Regions from separate parts of the Homo sapiens genome. Here regions 2 and 3 are each linked to region 1. Evidence: fine-mapped expression QTL. A gene starts in region 1. Each other region holds a variant in brackets. All regions are shown on one strand. Distances are between the middles of the regions.

Region 1 (2,760 bases):
GGGATGATGAGGCTTGCAGCATGGACACCAACTAATGCTGACTCCACGATCCTGCCACCCTGTAGCGCCAGTGTAATCCCCCAGGAGAACATCTTTGACACTCTGCAGACTGCTAGTGTTCTGTCTAAAAACCAGACAAGGAAATACCCTTCTTTTATGAGCAGAAGGAAACAAAAAAAAAAAAAGAAGACCGTTTACCTAGAAGAAGCTATGTCAAGAGGCTGAATTATTTTTATTTTTAAACAGGTGGTGAGAAATTTCTGTGAAACCTGTGAAGCTGAAAAGGGGGTGGGATGGGGGTACTCAATGGAGTATGTCTGATGGATCCCGAAGAATGGAGAGGAACACAGGCGCTGAGTATGGAGCAGCCTGGAGACCCACCCCACCTGCAGGGCTGCCCTGAGCGCCTGGATTTCTGGTTCTGATGCCAATACTAGTCACCCCAAGTAGTCTGCTCACAGTAACCCAAACCTCAAGTAAACTCCCCTTTCCCTCGCTATGTGCACTGATATGGGTTTATAATTTTCTGAAAGTTACCCACTGAAGCCCATTTCTCCGTTGAGTCATCTTGTAATTTCCAGCTTTCTCCCCGCTAAGGAAGATATCTAGTGTTGGGGATCCTGGCCCCTCAACCTCCTGTGGAACCCAGCAGTTCTGTTATATCCCCTGCTACCCTAGATGAATTAAGACGGTTAAATACTGTGTGGAACTTTTATTAGATAACACACTTTTTATTAGATAACGCTTAAAGGAAGTCAGTACATAAAACTGCCCGGTGCTGTGTCCCGTCTAGTTGTTTCCATGTTGGCTTGAGAACAGAAATCTTTGTGGGAGTTAGCCGGGAAAGGGCTCCAGTTCATGGCGATTTAGGGTAGTAATACATTTTGGTGTTACCCAGATGCTTTCTAGAACGGGTTCTTTCCTCATCCCTGCCAAGACTCTTCCCGGGGCCCCCATTCGAAAGCCCCGTCCCCACTCCCACCGCGGGGCCAGCCGCTGCGTGTGGGCAAGGCCTTAAGGAACCGGACGTATGGGTCCGGGATTTTTTGTCTGACCTTCAACCTAATCCGTGGGGGTTTGGGGCCTGCGCGGGGCACGCGCATGCGATGACCGTTGGATGGGTCGGCGTCACTGCGCTGCGGGTGAGGACAAGGACGTGGCTGCCGACTCGCCAAAGGGGGGGTGCCGGTAGGGCCAGCGGCCTGGGAGCCGCGGTGGGGCGGGAGGCAGCGGCGGGGCGGGCCAGGAAGCTGTGGGAAGTGGGGCGGGGCGTCTTTGGGGCTTCTGGCAGATGGCGGGTTCCTCCGCGAGAGCCGAGAACCGCCTACTCCAGGAGGAAAGCCCGAGGGTTGTGGGTCCTGCTATAGCCAGGGCCAAGCTCCAGGAAATCGTGGCCATTCAGGGGTAGTTTGCAGCCTCATTTGTAACATTATTGTGTTGTCCTGTGCATTTCCAATGCATTACATAAAGACATGGTCGCTTTTAGGAGAAATGTCTGAAAAACTAAGAAGATGCAGAAAGGAACTGACTGCAGCCATTGACCGGGCCTTTGAAGGAGTTAGTTATTCCCAGGAGTGCACAGGCCAGCAGAGGCTGGAACTGAGCGCCGCGCCGCTCTCCTTCTCGCTGCCCGTGCACAGGCTCCTCTGCAGAAGACATCCTCTGGCAGCCTGCTCTTCTGCTGCTCCTTTTGCTGCTGTCCCATGTGCTCCTGAGAATGAGAACCCTGCCTTTGCAACAAACCATGCCCCGGTAAATGCAAAACCACATGCTCTGTGCCCCGAGAGAAAACCTCTAACCAGCAAGGAAAATGTATTGATGCATTCCTCCATTTTGGCACCTGAAAGAGAGTCTTGGAGAACTGCAGGAGAGGGGGAAAACTGGAGAAAAGAAAATTTAAGGTGATTCTAATTTTGATGGTTTAACAGCTACAATTAAGGGGATTCTTGTTTCTGAAAAAGTTGTTGAAGATCCTAGATTTAGTTCATGACAGTGCTCTTGCCTCCTCTTGGCAGCTCTGTGACTGCATTTGGGGAGTTGACAGACATTCTTCAGAATCTGGCCTAGGAAACAGTTATATTTTGTGTATATGTTCCAGTTGAGGGGCTAGTTGTCAATCGTTGATGTCAAAAACCAGTCATGGAAACCACTTTGCAGTACCCAAAGGGGTAGTGGATGTAAAATAACCGGGTTTTAAAAATAACCTTATTTTTTAAGTTGCAGAAACAAAAGTCTTAATTCCATCTTAACTCCTGTGTTTGAATCTGGACACTGGGGCCTTTGATACCCTCCTTTGCCCACATTAGGGAGAGGCTTAATTGAAGGCTGGGCCCTACTTCCTGGCTTCATCTTTGCCTCTGCTCCCCGCTCTTACCCCAGATCTTTTTGGACCATCACCAGGTCTCTTCTAGACTTTTTCTTCTCCCGAGTAACTTGAAATTGCCTGGTCCCAGGCACCTTGACTTGGAGAAGGGATGAATGTATGAGATGAAACTTCAGGCCGGGCGCGGTGGCTCACACTTGTAATCCCAGCACTTTGGGAGGCCGAGGCGGGCAGATCACGAGGTCAGGAGATCGAGACCATCCTGGCTAACACGGTGAAACTCTGTCTCTACTAAAAATACAAAAAATTAGCCGGGCGTGGTGGCGGGCGCCTGTAGTCCCAGCTACTCGGGAGGCTGAGGCAGGAGAATGGCATGAACCCGGGAGGCGGAGCTTGCAGTGAGCCGAGATCACGCCACTGCACTCCAGCCTGGGCGA
Region 2 (2,760 bases), 310 kb before region 1:
AAAGGCTATCTAAAGGACATATTTTAGATTCAAAGAAACAAATAGGTTGAAATTTTTTTTAATGGGCAAAGATTATCATGCAAACAGCAACCACAGACAGCTGTAATGGCTATACTAATACCAGACCAAACAGACTTTACAACACAAAACAAATGTTATTGAAAATGAAGATTTGGCGGGGCGTGGTGGTTCACACCTGTAATCCCAGCACTTTAGGAGGCCGAGGCGGGCAGATCACGAGGTTAAGAGATCAAGACCATCCTGGCCAACATGGTGAAACCCCGTCTCTACTAAAAATACAAAAATTAGCTGGGCGTGGTGGCACACGACTGTAGTCCCATCTCCTCAGGAGGCTGAGGCAGGAGAATCACTTGAACCTGGGAGGCGGAGGTTGCAGTGAGCTGAGATTGCGCCACTGCACTCCAGCCTGGCGACAGAGTGAGACTCCATCTCAAAAAAAAAAAACAAAGAAAAAGAAAGAAGGAAAAATAAAATGAAGATTGGCCAGGCATGGTGGCTCATGCCTGTAATCCCAGCACTTCAGGAGGCCAAAGGCTGTTGGATCGCCTGAGCTCAGGAGATTGAGACCACCCTGGGTAACATGGTGAAACACCGTCTCTACTAAAATACAAAAAATGAGCCGGGCGTGGTGGCATGCGCCTGTAGTCACAGCTACTTGGGAGGCTGAGGCAGGAGAATCGCTTGAACCTGGAAGGCGGAGGTTGCTGTGAGCTGAGATTGCGCAACTGCACTCCAGCCTGGGCGACAGAGTGAGACTCCATCTCAAAAAAAAAAAGAAAGAAAGAAAGAAAAAGAAAATGAAGATTGAAGATTGATAAAGAGGTCAATCCATTAGAAAGATATAACATTTGTAAACATATACACATACATAGACCTAAGAACAGAGCCCCAAAATTCATGATGCAAAACTGACGGAATTGAAGGGAGAAATAGACAATTCAACAACAGTAATTGGATACTTCAATACTTTATAATAATGGATAGAACAACTAGGCAGAAGATCAACAAGAAAATAAAAAACTTGAGCAACACTATAAACTAATTAGAACTAACGGGTATTTAAAAAACACTCCACCCGGCCGGGCGCGGTGGCTCACGCCTGTAATCCCAGCACTTTGGGAGGCCGAGGCGGGCGGATCACAAGGTCAGGAGATCGAGACCATCCTGAAACCCCGTCTCTACTAAAAAATACAAAAAAAAAAAAAA[T/AAAAAAAAT]TTAGCCAGGCGTGGTGGCAGGCGCCTGTAGTCCCAGCTACTCGGGAGGCTGAGGCAGGAGAATGGCGTAAACGCGGGAGGCGGAGCTTGCAGTGCGTGGAGATCGCGCCACTGCACTCCAGCCTGGGCGACAGAGCGAGACTCTGTCTCAAAAAAAAAAAAACACTCCACCCAACAACAGCAGAATGCGCACTCTTCTCAAATGTACACGGAACACCCTCCAGATTAGGCCATAAACTAGGCCACAAAACAAACCTCAAAAAATTGAAAAGACTTGAAATCATACAATGAATGTTTTCTGAACACAATATAATTAAATTAGAAATCAATAACAGAAATAAATTTGCAGAATTCACAAATAAGTGTAAATTGAACAACACATTCCTAAATAACTCATGGGTCAGAGAAGAAATCACAAAAGAAATTTTAAAGTACTTTGAGAGGAATTAAAATGAAAACACTGCATATCAAAACATTGGATGTAGTGATAGCAGTACTCAGAGAAATTTCTAGCTGCAAATACCTATATTCAAGAAAAGAAAGATTCATTTCAATTGATGCTGAAAAAGCATTTGAAAAAATTCAACATCCCTTCATGATTTTAAAAAAAACCCTCAAAAAACTGGGGATAGAAGGAACATACCTCAAAATAATGAAAGCCATATACGACAGACCTACAGCTAGTGTCATACTGAACGGGGAAAAATCGAAAGCCTTTCCTCTAAGATCTGGAACATGACAAGGATGCCCACTGTCATCACTGCTATTCAACATAGTGAGGCAGGAGAATAGGGTCTGGAGGAAGGGAACCTAAGGTCAATTTGCACTGACTTCCTAGAACTGAATCAAAAGGAAAATCCCGGCCGGGTGCAGTGGCTCACACCTGTAATTCCAGCACTTTGGGAAGCTGAGGCAGGCAGATTACCTAAGGTCAGGAGTTTGAGACCAGCCTGGCCAACATGGTGAAACCCCATCTCTACTAAAAATACAAAAATTAGCCGGGCGTGGTAGCAGGCGCCTATAATCCCAGCTACTTGGGAGGCTGAGGCAGAAGAATCGCTTGAGCCCAGGAGGCGAAGGTTGCAGTTAGCCGAGATTGCGCCACTGCACTCCAGCCCAGGCGACAGAGCGAGACTCTTGTCTCAAAAAAAAAAAGAAAAGAAAAGAAAAGAAAAGAAAAGAAAAGAAAAGAAAAACCCCAACTTTCCCTGCCCAAGTAACAAAATGACAGAAGTTACTCCTTTTGCATGGCAGATGAGAAACAGAAAGTACCCCTGATTGGTCCTCTCCCGCAACCAATCAGACATTTGCATAGGGTGTAACTTTGTAACTTCACTTCAGCCTCTGACTGATCGCCTTCCACAACCAATCATACTGGTCACAGGCTACCACTTCATCTACACAGGGAGCAAATCAAGCAACCAATAGGAAACATCTAAAGACTATTTAAACCCCAGAAAATTGTGTAAGCAGCACTCTTGAGCTGCTTGCTCTAGCCTGCTCGCAGTCTGTGGAGTGCACTTTCATTTCAAT
Region 3 (2,760 bases), 510 kb before region 1:
GATCCACCCCCCTTGGCCTCCCAAAGTGCTGGGGTTACAAGTGTGAGCCACTATGCCCGGCGCAAATTAACTTTTAACAGTACTAAAATTATCTTGCTCAGTGAAAACACCTTCAAGCCCCTTTCCTGTGAATTTGGGCAAGTTGGAGATCCTCAGTAGAGTGTGCAGGTCTAGGAAGAGTTCTCATTGCTCCAAAACACATTTCTCTTGACCTGTGGCCTCTTTGGTTCTTTGTACAGTCTTCTTGTATGTGGTCATAGAATATGCCTGCATGAGATGACTAAGAAGTCAAGCGACAATACTTTGTGCACTTTTTGTTTTGTTTTGTTTTGTTTTGTTTTTTTGAGATGGAGTCTTGCTCCGTTGCCAGGCTGGAGTACAGTGGTGCCATCTCGGCTCACTGCAACCTCTGACTCCCTGGTTCAAGCAATTTTCCTGCCTCAGCCTCCCGAGTAGCTGGGACTACAGGCACGTGCCACCACACCTGGCTAATTTTTGTATTTTTAGTAGAGACGGGGTTTCACTATGTTGGCCAGACTGGTCTCGAACTCCTGACCTCATGATCAACCCGCCTCCGCCTCCCAAATTGTTGGGATTACAGGCATGAGCCACCGCGCCAAGCCTACTTTTTTTTTTTTTTTCTGAGACGAAGTCTCGTTCTCTCACCCAGGCTGGAGTGCAATGGCACAATCTCAGCTGACTGCAACCTCTGCCTCCTGGGTTCAAGCAAGTCTCCTGCCCCAGCCTCCCAAGTAGCTGGGATTACAGGTGCGTGCCACCATGCCCGGCTAATTTCTGTATTTTTAGTAGAGACCTGGTTTCACCATGTTGTTCAGGCTGATCTCGAACTCCTGACCTCCTGATCCGCCTGCCTTGGCCTCCCAAAGTGCTGGGATTACAGGCGTGAGCCACTGTGCCTGGTCACGCGCCTAGCCTACTTTGTGCACTTCTATCAGGATCTTGTCACCTCTGAATGTATAATTTTGAAAGAGGCCAGGTGCGGTAGCTCATGTCTGTAATCCCAGCACTTTGGGAGGCTGAGGCGGGCGGATCACCTGAGGTCAGTAGTTAAGAGATTAGCCTATCCAAAATGGCAAAATCCCATGTCTACTAAAAATACAAAAATTAGCTGGGCGTGGTGGTGCATGGAGGCTGAGGCAGGAGAATCACCTGAACCCGGAAAGCGGAGGTTGCAGTGAGCTGAGATCGCGCCACTGCACTCCAGCCTGGGTGACAGAGTGAGACTCAGTCTCCAAAAATAAATAAATAAATAAATAATAAATAAAATAATAATTTTGAAAGAAACCAGCTCCTTGGTCAGGAGATCCTTTAGGAAAGCAGGTGCTGAACCCAGAGGA[C/T]GCTGGCAGCTTGTTGCTGTTCGACTGAGTTTATACTGCACTTGTGAGGCAAGGGAGAAGTTGAGTAGTCTTTAGTTATTTATTTCATTGTCCTTCAGGGCCATTTTTTGAATCTTTAGTTCATTATAATCTTGGTAAGACCAGTTCCTTGGGCAGTTCTTGAAAGGAGGGGGATATTAAAATATTAGCTTTTCTTTCTTTCTTTTTTTTTTTTTTTGAGACGGAATCTCGCTCGGTTGCGCTGGCTGGAGTGCAGTGGCATGGTCTTGGCTTACTGCAAGCTCCACCTCCTGGGTTCACGCCATTCTCCTGCCTCAGCTTCCCAAATAGCTGGGACTATAGGCACCTGCCACCATGCCCGGCCAATTTTTTTGTATTTTTAGGAGAGACGGGGTTTCACCGTGTTAGCCAGGATGGTCTCGATCTCCTGACCTCATGATCCGTCTACCTCGGCCTCCCAAAGTGCTGGGATTACAGGCGAGAGCTACTGCACCCAGCAAAAATATTAGCTTTTCAAAATTGTCCCAAGCCCCTGCTTTTTTTTTTTTTCTGAGACAGGGTTTCACCATGTTGGCCAGGCTGGTCACTCCTGACAGGTGATCCACCTGCCTCAGCCTTGGCCTGGGATTACAGGGGTGAGACACCACACTGGCTGTCATTTGCATTTTTAAAAATTACTTATGTAGAGATGGGGTCTCAGTTGCCCAGACTGGGCTTGAACTCCTAGTCTCAAGTGATCCTCCTGTCTTGGCCTCCCAAAATGCTAGGATTACAGGCATGAGCCACCATGCCTGGCCTTTTTTTTTTTTTGAGACAGAGTCTCACTCTGTCGCCCAGGCTGGAATGCAGTGGCATGATCTTGTCTCACTGCAACTTCCGCCTCCTGGGTTCAAGTGATACTCCTGCCTCAGCCTCCCGAGTAGCTGGGACTACAGGAGTGCGCCAGCACGCCTGGCTAATTTTTTTTTTTTTTTTTTTTTTTAGTAGAGCCGGGGTTTTGCCATGTTGGCCAGGCTGGTCTCAAACTCCTGACCTCAAGTGATCCACCCACCTTGGCCTCCCAAAGTGCTGGGATTACAGGTGTGAGCCACCACACCTGGCCACGCCTGGCCTTTTTTAAGAGACAGTCTCTTAAAAACCTCCTAGGCTGGAGTGTAGTGACACAATTGTAGCTCACTGCAGCCTCCAACTCCTGGGCTCAAGTGATCTTCTTGCCTCAGCTTCCAAAGTAGCTAGGACTACACACATGCGCCACCATGCCTGGCTAATTTTCTTTGTCTTAATTTTTTTGTAGAGATGGGGGTCTCACTATGTTGCTCAGGCTAGTCTCAAACTCGTGGGTGCAAATGATCCTCCTGCCTCGGGTTCCTAAAGTGCAGGCATGAGCCACTGTGCCTGGCTT

The links. PIP is the estimated chance that this variant, and not a neighbour inherited with it, causes the effect.
Region 2: its variant is fine-mapped to the expression of C3orf62 in whole blood (INTERVAL, PIP above 0.99).
Region 3: its variant is fine-mapped to the expression of C3orf62 in whole blood (TOPMed, PIP above 0.99).

What each region holds. Positions count from the first base shown.
Region 1 is chr3:49,275,568-49,278,327 of GRCh38, reverse strand. C3orf62 (chromosome 3 open reading frame 62) reads left to right here and starts at 1,096. Exons shown (of 3, transcript NM_198562.3): 1 at 1,096-1,901. The coding sequence starts at 1,456. It overlaps USP4 (ubiquitin specific peptidase 4), which reads left to right. Exons shown (of 22, transcript NM_003363.4): 22 at 1-1,184. The coding sequence ends at 35. RefSeq lists a silencer at 1,073-1,272 and an enhancer at 1,413-1,482.
Region 2 is chr3:49,587,550-49,590,309 of GRCh38, reverse strand. All of the region lies in intron 1 of BSN (bassoon presynaptic cytomatrix protein), which reads right to left. Among named protein-coding and RNA genes, the nearest start is that of BSN, 34 kb to the right of the region's middle. The variant T/AAAAAAAAT (reference allele first, on the strand shown) is at 1,228.
Region 3 is chr3:49,782,528-49,785,287 of GRCh38, reverse strand. The region is part of intron 1 of IP6K1 (inositol hexakisphosphate kinase 1); the gene reads left to right. Among named protein-coding and RNA genes, the nearest start is that of IP6K1, 2.6 kb to the left of the region's middle. The variant C/T (reference allele first, on the strand shown) is at 1,359.